Linked DNA regions of Homo sapiens. The protein of the gene in region 2 purifies or fractionates together with the protein of the main gene of each other region. This does not show direct contact. Each region holds a gene or a part of one and is shown on either strand. Other genes may lie near its edges.

Region 1 (4,344 bases), on a different chromosome or scaffold from region 2:
TAAGTTTTAATCTTCGTAATCTCTAAAGATGGAGATTGGGGGTGAGTGGGTTTGGAATTCTGTATGGGTGAGGACAATAAGAAAAGTCTGCACTAATTGAAATATTGCCAGGCTTTTGAGTTTCCTCTGGGGGGACTTAGTTGTGACTAGAATCCTGGGTTTGGGACATTGGCGGGCGGGGGTGTAGCTCTTGACATCTCTTCCTTTTCCATCTTGCCGGCCCCAGTGGACCACAGACCAGCAGCTGATCCAGGTTATTCGCTCTATAGGAGTCTATGATGTGGTGGAGTTGAAATTTGCAGAGAATCGAGCAAATGGCCAGTCCAAAGGGTGAGGTCTGGATTTGAGAAGCCCCTTTTAATTTGTAACCATTGGGATAAAAGATCTGTACTATATTTTGGCCCTGGATTTTAATCACTCCCACCCCTGGCCCAGCTTACTGCCTTGGTTTTGGCAAACTGCCTTAGAAAGGGACCTAGCTGCAGTGTAGTAGAATATCCATCTGTTAAGGGGCGAAGAATACTGATTTTTAATTCCAAAAAAATAAAGATTTAGGCTGTCTCTTTGTTGTTAGTGCTGTATGTGTGTTTAGTTTAGCAAGATGTCCTTTGCTTTATCAATTTTTACTAAAAGTGGAAGAGAATTTCTTTTTTCTTCTCTTGGCTGTCTACAGATTTCATTCATTTTTAATTTTTCTTTCCTAAGGTATGCTGAGGTGGTGGTAGCCTCTGAAAACTCTGTCCACAAATTGTTGGAACTCCTACCAGGGAAAGTTCTTAATGGAGAAAAAGTGGACGTGAGGCCGGCCACCCGGCAGAACCTGTCACAGTTTGAGGCACAGGCTCGGAAACGTGAGTGTGTCCGAGTCCCAAGAGGGGGTACGTGGAGACCATCTGTATGAGGGGGGGGTGTTTGTGGGTTTGTTTTCTATGGTGTAGGCTTAGCCTACAGTGTGGGTGAGTTTGGGGGAGGGTGATGGTGGTTGTGAGTGGTGTCATGGTCGACAAGTAGTCCTCAGAATAGGTCTATATAGAAGAAAGAGCATTGTGCTGGGAGTCAAGTAGGTTCAGGTTGTAGTTTGGTTCTGCCACTGACTCGTGTGACCTTGGCCAAGTCACTTTACTACTTAGGGCCTGTTTCCCCATCTGGACTAGTGACATGATGTTTAAAGTTCCATCACCTCTAAATTCTGTGTTTCTGTCTAAAACTTGGCATTAGGTGAATGGGCTTAATTTTTAAGACATGCCTCTCTATAAATTATCAAGAAGCAGCCACCCTAAAATGTAACTAAAAGGTGCCTATAATCTTTTCATAAACGTTGATTGGAAGGATACTGTAAGGAATCAACCAAGAGGAGTGTTGGAGAATAAGACTTGAACAATATTTCTCCAGCATTGTCCAGGGGAGAGGGTGCTCTTTTGATTACCAAATGTTTTAGTCTGCTTGGCAGTTATATCCCATTAGTAAAGAAAGTTACAGGCCGGGCGCGGTGGCTCACGCCTATAATCCCAGCACTTTGAGAGGCCGAGGTGGGTGGATCACGAGGTCAAGAGTTTGAGACCAGCCTGGCCAACATGGTGAAACCCCATCTCTACTAAGAATACAAAAATTAGCCGGGTGTGGGTGACACATGCCTGTAATCCCAGCTACACGGGAGACTGAGGCAGGAGAATTGCTTGACCCCGGGAGACGGAGGTTGCTGTGAGCTGAGATCAGACCACTGCACTCCAGCCTGGGCAACAGAGCAAGACTCCATCTTGGAGGGAAAATAAAAAAGTTAGGGGCTGGGCATGGTGGCTCACACCTGTAATCCCAGTGCTTTGGAAGGCTGAGGCGGGCAGATACCTGAGGTCAGGAGTTCGAGACCAGCCTGGGCAACATGGCAAAACCCTGTCTTTACTAAAAATACAAAACTTAACCAGTTATGGTGGCACATGCTTATAATCTCAGCTACTCGGGAGTCTGAGGCAGGTGAATCTCTTGAATCCAGGAGGTGGAGGTTGCAGTGACCTGAGATTGCACCACTGCCTTCCAGCCTGGGTGACAGAGTGAGACTCTGTCTCAAAAAAAAAAAAGAAAAAAGAAAGTTACCTCAGAACTACCTTAGTTTGAGGACAGTTTCCCCAATGTCCATCTTACTCTCTTTATTCTGACTGTACTCACTAAGCCACTTTCTGATGCTAATTTGGTTTCCCAATTAGGGTCTCCTACTAGGAAGAGAATTCGCTGACCAGCCGACACAAGTATTCTGGTCTGCTTGGCAATTACATTTCTCATTGTAAATTAATAAATTGGTGTTATGGTTTATGAATCAGTCTCTTGTGAGTTTGGTTAGCATGAATCAGTCTCCTAGGGCCTAGTCACCCCAGTTGAAGCAAGTTTCTGAACCTGAGAAACCTGAGGACTAGACCTTGGATTTTCCTGACCTCATAAAGTGCAGCCACCCTGCAAGACCTTCCCTGAGACAGCCAACCACCCTTATTTTCTTTTGCTACAGTGGGAGGAACAGCAAAGTTTCATCACTGATGTTCTGTCACTGCTTAGGTCCAGCTCTCAAAATAGTGCCTTGTATTGATTGGGTGTATCCTCCAGGTAGAAATAGGACCACTTTGCTCTTGCATAGGAACAGCTGTTCTTTTAACTAGATTGACAGCCTAGATAGATTTGGTGTGAACTCTTGTTGTTCCATGTTAGAAAGGACACACTCTTCTTCCTTGACAAGTTGTATTTTCAAGTCCCCTCTGTTTTGGAGTCTTTCTGTAATTCACCCCTGACTTTCCTTAGGTATGTAATTTTACAACTGTATTGGGGGTAACGTTCTACTTCTACTCAGCTACTTTTCATGTTACTTTTTTTTGCTGAAAAGATTGTGTAACTGAGTGCTGTTTTTCTGCTCTGTCATGCTGATGGACCTGGGCTCTGTTAATTCACTAAGTAAAGCTGGTGGACTTCCTCTGCATAGAAATGTTGCGTCTTTTGGGACTTGTAGCCATAGATACAAAACAACCTTTGCAGATGTGACAACAGTAGTAGCTGGGAAAGTGGTTAACTGTCAGATGACACTTGCCTTATACCTTTTTGTTCTTCAGTTTGAGAGAACTCTAGGAAAGAGCCAGTTGCCATGTGTTTGAGACCTGAAGAACAAGACAGCACTGGCACTGTTCTGTAAGAGAAATCTAGGTGGTTGTCAACATAATTGATTCCACCTTAGGCTTTACTCAGGAGCTGGGATTAACTATCATATTCTAGTTTAAGGAGCACTCTTTCCTCCACACTTGCTGCCAGTGGCATCTTTCTATCTCCAAGACCCCCCCAAAGCCATGTGATCTTGTTCTTCTATTGGATTCCACAATAAACAGGCTTAGACTGTTAAACTGGAGAGAAGGAACAAGTTTAACCAAGTGACTTGACAATGTCAGAATCCATGCTTCCAGCTGTTTAAAACATGTTCTGAGCTCCTGTTGTGCACAGCACCATACTAGCATGTGGTGATGGTGTTCCTGTTAGGCTGCCCTGAAGGGTAGAGGATTTTGGCCATTGAAATGTAGCGGGAGTTCCCCAGATTGGAGACATGTTTTGTAGCAAGCTTTTGCTAAGCATCCTTACTGTCAGCTGTGTGCTATCTGCTTGTGCTGTGGGCGGATCTTTTATTGGCGTATCTCCCAATTTTTCTTATCTTTCACTTAACCTCCAGTTGTCTAGTCTTCATGTGTGTCTCTTTCTCACCCTGATTACTAGTTTTAGTATGTAAATAGAAGTGCCATCCAGTTCCTGCCACTCCCTCTCTTCCCTTAAATTCCCTAGCCAACACCCTGTGGCAAAGAGAACATTTTAAGTGTGCAACAGGAAGAGGTTAACTAGTATTAGTTTAAGGAGAGAGGTCCTGAACTCTTCAGGAGATGTGGGGTTTCAAGTCAACTGCAATTCACCTGAACATCAGTGAACACTGTCATTTTCTCGTGGGCTATCAGGATCCTTCTACATTTAAAAATAGAAGATACATATAAGGATAAATTAAATCTGTTCTGAAGCACTTCTGGAGTTATGGATGGAAAACATTCTTTGACAGGATTTAGGACGATATTGTTTTTTGGATTTAATGTCTTCACTGAGTTGCTTCTGACCTCTGAAGCCAAAAAAAAGGCAGTAGATGATTTTACCTTCTCAGCCTCTTTAGTCACCTTCCTTTGTAGGGTGTCTGATAACTTCTGAAGGATGAACTGGTCCTGTGGGTTTGTGTAAAGCCTGGGCAGTAACATCAGTTCTGTTTTGCTTCATAGGAATACCTCCACGGGCCCATTCCCGAGATTCTAGTGATTCTGCTGATGGACGGGCCACACCCTC
Region 2 (5,154 bases):
CTCTTGACCTCGTGATCTGCCCGCCTCTGCCTCCCAAAGTGCTGGGATTACAGGCGTGAGCCACTGTGCCTGGTCAAAAACATGCTAATCTTCTTTAGGAGTGTTTTCTTTGTACATAGGATGATTAATTGAAAAACAAAAACCTTTGGCTGGGCGTGGTGGCTCACGCCTGTAATCCTAGCACTTTGGGAGGCTGAGGTGGGAGGGTCATGAGGTCAGGAGTTCGAGACCAGCCTGACCAACACTGTGAAACCCCATCTCCATAAAAATACAAAAATCAGCCGGGCGTGGTGGTGCACGCCTGTAATCCCAGCTACTTTGGGAGGCTGAGGCAGGAGAATCTCTTGAACCCAGCAGGTGGAGGTTGTAGTGAGCCAAGATCGTACCACTGCACTCCAGCTTGGGCGACAGAGCGAGACTCTGTCTCAAAAACAAAAACAAACAAACAAAAAAACCACAAAAAACAAACCTTCATCATCCTGTGTATTACTATATCTTTTTTTAATGTACTGATTTTGCCCTATTTGAAGCAGATTGACAGTATACATCTTGGCCTTAATATAAGAGTTATCAAACTTTTATATTTTTATAACTTAAAATATAAGAGTTATAAAACTAGTTTTCTTTATAAGAGTTATAAAACTAGTTAAACTGCTTTTCATAGTTCTTTTATAACAGAGTTATGTTAAATGTTACTTTAATTTTCAAGGGAAGACTTGGAAGGACCAAACCCCTAAAAATGATTTAAAAGTCTAGGAAGCAGGTCCCAAGTAATTAAACTGTCATGACATTTCCTTCCCATGCTTTCAAAAGATGTTTGATAAAGCAAGATCTTTTGGAGTTGTTTATTTAACTTAGGGGATGAGACTAGGTAATATTTTGCATACCCAGATTCAAGGAAGTAAACAGGCAGAATGAAAGATAAAGCACTATTAAAATATGGTGGGTCTTTTCTTTTTTGTGTCTTTACACAGTTGCTGGTTATATTTATTCTTTCGTTTGTATAGATGGTGTCACCTCTGATATGTCTGAGTTAGAAATCTTCAGACTTTTTTTTTATGCCATTAGTGTAAGTCTCTTTCATGTACAAATGTTGAGAATGAGCCTCAGGTATCAGTTGAGTAATGGGACCCTGTATAGGTCCCATTATTTTTAGGATCAGGGAAGTTTTTAAAATCAGTTTTAAACCCTTTTTACAGTGTACCTCTTTGATAAGGAGATTGTGCTTTGGCTGTCATTTGATTTTTTTTTTTTTTTTTTTTTTTTTTTGAGACAGAGTTTTGCTCTCGTTGCCCAGGCTGGAGTACAGTGGTGCGATCTCAGCTCACTGCAACCTCCGCCTCCCGGGTTCAAGCAATTCTCCTGCCTCAGCCTCCCAAGTAGCTGGGATTACAGGCATGCGCCACTACACCCGGCTGATTTTGTATTTTTTTTTTAATAGACTTGGGGTTTTTCCATGTTGGTCAGGCTGGTCTGGAATTCCCAACCTTGGATGATCCGCCCGCCTTGGCCTCCCAAAGTGCGGGGATTACAGGCGTGAGCCACCGCACCTGGCCGGCTGTCATTTGAATTTTTATTATTTTATTTTATTTTATTTTTTTGAGGCAGGGTCTCGCTGTGTCGCCCAGGCTGGAGTGCAGTGGTGCGATCTCGGCTCACTGCAACCTCCGCCCCTCCAGGTTTAAGCAATTCTCTGCCTCAGCCTCCGGAGTAGCTGGGATTACAGGCACGTGCCACCACGCCCGGCTAATTTTTTGTATTTTTAGTAGAGATGGGGTTTCACCATCTTGCCCAGGCTGGTCTTGAGCTCCTGACCTCGTGATCCACCCGCCTCGGCCTCCCAAAGTGCTGGGATTACAGGCGTGAGCCACCGTGCCTGGCTTGAATTTTTTTTTTTTTTTGAGACGGAGTTTTGCTCTGTCGCCCAGGCTGGAGTGCAGTGGCGCCATCTCGGCTCACTGCAAGCTCCACCTCCCGGGTTCACGCCATTCTCCTGCCTCACTCAGCCTCCTGAGTAACTGGAACTACAGGCGCCCTCCACCACGCCGGGCTAATTTTTTTTTATATTTTTAGTAGAGGCTGGGTTTCACCGTGTTAGCCGGGATGGGCTCGATCTCCTGACCTCGTGATCCGCCCGCCTCAGCCTCCCAAAGTGCTGGGATTACAGGCGTAAGCCACTGCCCTCCGCCCGAATTTTTAAAAATTAATTTTATTATTATTATTTTTGAGACGGAGTCTTGCTGTGTCACCAGGCTGGAGTGCAGTGGCACAACCTTGGCTCACTGCAATCTCTGCCTCCCGGGTTCAAGTGATTCTGCCGCCTCAGCCTCCCAAATATCTGGGATTACAGGCACCCGCCACCATGCCCGGCTAATTTTTTTTTTTTTTAATTTCTAGTAGAAACGGGGTTTCACCATGTCGGCCAGGATCATCTCGATCTCCTGACCTCGTGATCCGCCCGCCTTGGCCTCCCAAAGTGCTGGGATTACAGGTGTGAGCCACGGTGCCCTGCCTAAAAATTAATTTTTTTTTTTTTTAATAACTGAGTCTTGCTCTGTCGCCAGGCTGGAGTGCAGTGGCACGATCTCAGCTCACTACAGCCTCTGCCTCCCGTGTTCAAGCAATTCTCCTGCCTCAGCCTCCTGATTAGCTGGGACTACAGGCACACGCCACCACGTCGGCTAATTTTTTTTTTCTTTTTCTTTTTCTTTTTTTTTTTTTGTATTTTAGTAGAGACGAGGTTTCACCAGGTTGCCCAGGCTTGTCTTGAACTCCTGAGCTCAGGCAATATCTGCCTGCCTCAGCCTCCCAAAGTGCTAGGATTACAGGTGTGAGCCACGGTGCCAGGCCAAAAATTAAATTTTTTAAACAGCAAATGTATATTCATTATAGAAAAGGAGAAAACACAAACACCAAGAAGAAAATTCTTGGTTGGGCCTTAGGTTGGGCCCAACCCTTAGGTTGGGACCAGCGGCTCATGCCTGCAATCCCAGCACTTTTGGAGGCCGAGGTGGGCGGATCACCTGAGGTCAGCAGTTCGAGACCAGCCTGGCCAACATGGCAAAACCCTGTATCTACTAAAAATACAAAAATTAGCCGGGCATGGTGGTGGGCACCTGTAATTCTAGCTACTTAGGAGGCTGAGGCAGGAGAACTGCTTGAACCTGGGAGGCAGAGGTTGCAGTGAGCCGAGATCGTGCCACTGCACTCCAGCCTGAGTGACAAAGCAAGACTCCCTTTGGGGGGTGGGGGAAAAGATGCAGGAAAAAAAAAAGCTGACATTTATTTTGTGCCAATTCTGTTTGCCAGGCATTACAGTAGATGCTTTACAGACATTATCTTTTTTTTTTTTTTTTTTTTGATGCAGAGTCTGGCTCTGTCGCCCAGGCTGGAGTCCTGGAGTGCAGTGGCACGATCTCGGTTCACTGCAGGCTCCATCTCTTGAGTTCACGCCATTCTCCTGCCTCAGCCTCCCAAGTAGCTGGGACTACAGGTGCCCGCCACTACGCCCGGCTAATTTTTTGTATTTTTTAGTAGAGACGGGGTTTCACTGTTAGCCAGGATGGTCTCGATCTCCTGACCTCGTGATCCTCCTGCCTTGGCCTCCCAGAGTGCTGGGATTACAGGCGTGAGCCACCGTTCCCGGCCAGACATTATCTTTTAAGCTCATGATAACTGCTGATGAGTAAGGAAACTTCAGGCTCAGAGAGTTTAAGTATTTTGCCTGGTATTACTTAGCAAGTAATGAAAGCTAGAAAGGATGGTAGCCTGACTTCTAGCATTGTGATAGGGTGTTCACATACATAACCTTATTTCATCCATACAACAGTGTTCTACAGGTATTACTCTGGTTTACCGACATGTAGCAGGCTCACAGAGCATCATTATCTGTGGTTGGTACTTGAAGTCTCAGATAGGATAGTTGATTTTCAGATCCCTTTGGGTGCTACTTTTGGAAATGCTACTAGTTGCATGTTTTTCACGTTGATAGTTTGTAGCCTTCAAGGGAGGTAATTTTGGATTTGTCAGAAGGGTAGTGGTCAGTAGTTGAAACAGCTGTTTGAAATACTGAGGGCTTCATTTGCTAAAGAAAGGTGAAGATGAATTACTGAAAGAGATCGCTTTTATCTTTTTTCTCTTCTTAAAAAGCTACTTTCCAACTTTATTCCATGCCTTAATAATTTAAAAGAAATTAAAACCTCTAAATAAATCTTTAATACTCATGACAGGGTGTTCTTTCATTCTTTATTCAAGACACATTTTTGTGGAACAGGTACTATATGCCAGGTCTTGAACCAGATGCTGGGAATAGAGAAATGGGATACTCAGTCCCCATTATCAAGTTACTTACAGTCTAGTGGGGAAGACAGAAAACCAACACTACAGGATTGTGATACTGTAAGTGCAGTATACTAATAAAATATATTAAGTGCTGTGATGCCAGTATCCAGGTGTTGCTGTGGAGAAACAAGGACCGCTACCTAAGGCAGGCTAGGAGCCGTGTGAAATTTTGAAAGACATCCCAGGGGAATCTGAGCTAAGTGCAGGGAGGTAAGTAGGGATTTGCTTCTAAATGGAAAATGGAGAGTGAGTTGTCCTGAATGTCAAATAATTTATATAACTGGAGCCATATATATGTGTATGTGTGTGTATATATACATCTTATATGTATATGTTATATATAACATATACTTTATGTATATGTTACTTATATATGAAGTATATGTTATATATAACGTGTGTGTGTGGGGGTATATATATATATATATATATATTTTTTTTTTTTTTTTTTGAGATAGAGTTTCACTCCTGTTGTTGCCCAGGCTGGAGTGCAATGGTGTGGTCTCGGCTCACTGCAAGCTCCACCTCCTGGGTTCAAATGATTCTTCTGCCTCAGCGTCCCAAGTAGCTGGGATTACAGCCGCCTGCCACCACACTCGGCTAATTTTTGAATTTTTAGTAGAGACAGGGTTTCAGTATGTTTGCCAGGCTGGTCATGAACTCCTGACCTCAGGTGATCCACCCACCTCGGCCTCCCAAAGTGCTGGGATTACAGGTGTGAGCCACTGCACCTGGCCTACTGGAGCCATATATATATTTAATACATGGGGTGGGGAAGGGGATTGTATTTTTAGTAATGAGTGGACCCAAGAT

Evidence for each region.
Region 1: the proteins of LMNB1 (region 2) and CPSF7 purify together in Homo sapiens (affinity purification with mass spectrometry; one large-scale study listed by BioGRID and IntAct). This does not show direct contact.

What each region holds. Positions count from the first base shown.
Region 1 is NC_000011.10:61,416,456-61,420,799, reverse strand, and holds part of CPSF7 (cleavage and polyadenylation specificity factor subunit 7), read left to right. Parts: intron 1-226; coding exon 227-330; intron 331-705; coding exon 706-851; coding exon of another isoform or gene 852-878; intron 879-4,280; coding exon 4,281-4,344.
Region 2 is NC_000005.10:126,782,773-126,787,926, forward strand, and holds part of LMNB1 (lamin-B1), read left to right. Parts: intron 1-4,535; exon of another isoform or gene 4,536-4,551; intron 4,552-5,154. UniProt on the Homo sapiens protein: Lamins are intermediate filament proteins that assemble into a filamentous meshwork, and which constitute the major components of the nuclear lamina, a fibrous layer on the nucleoplasmic side of the inner nuclear membrane.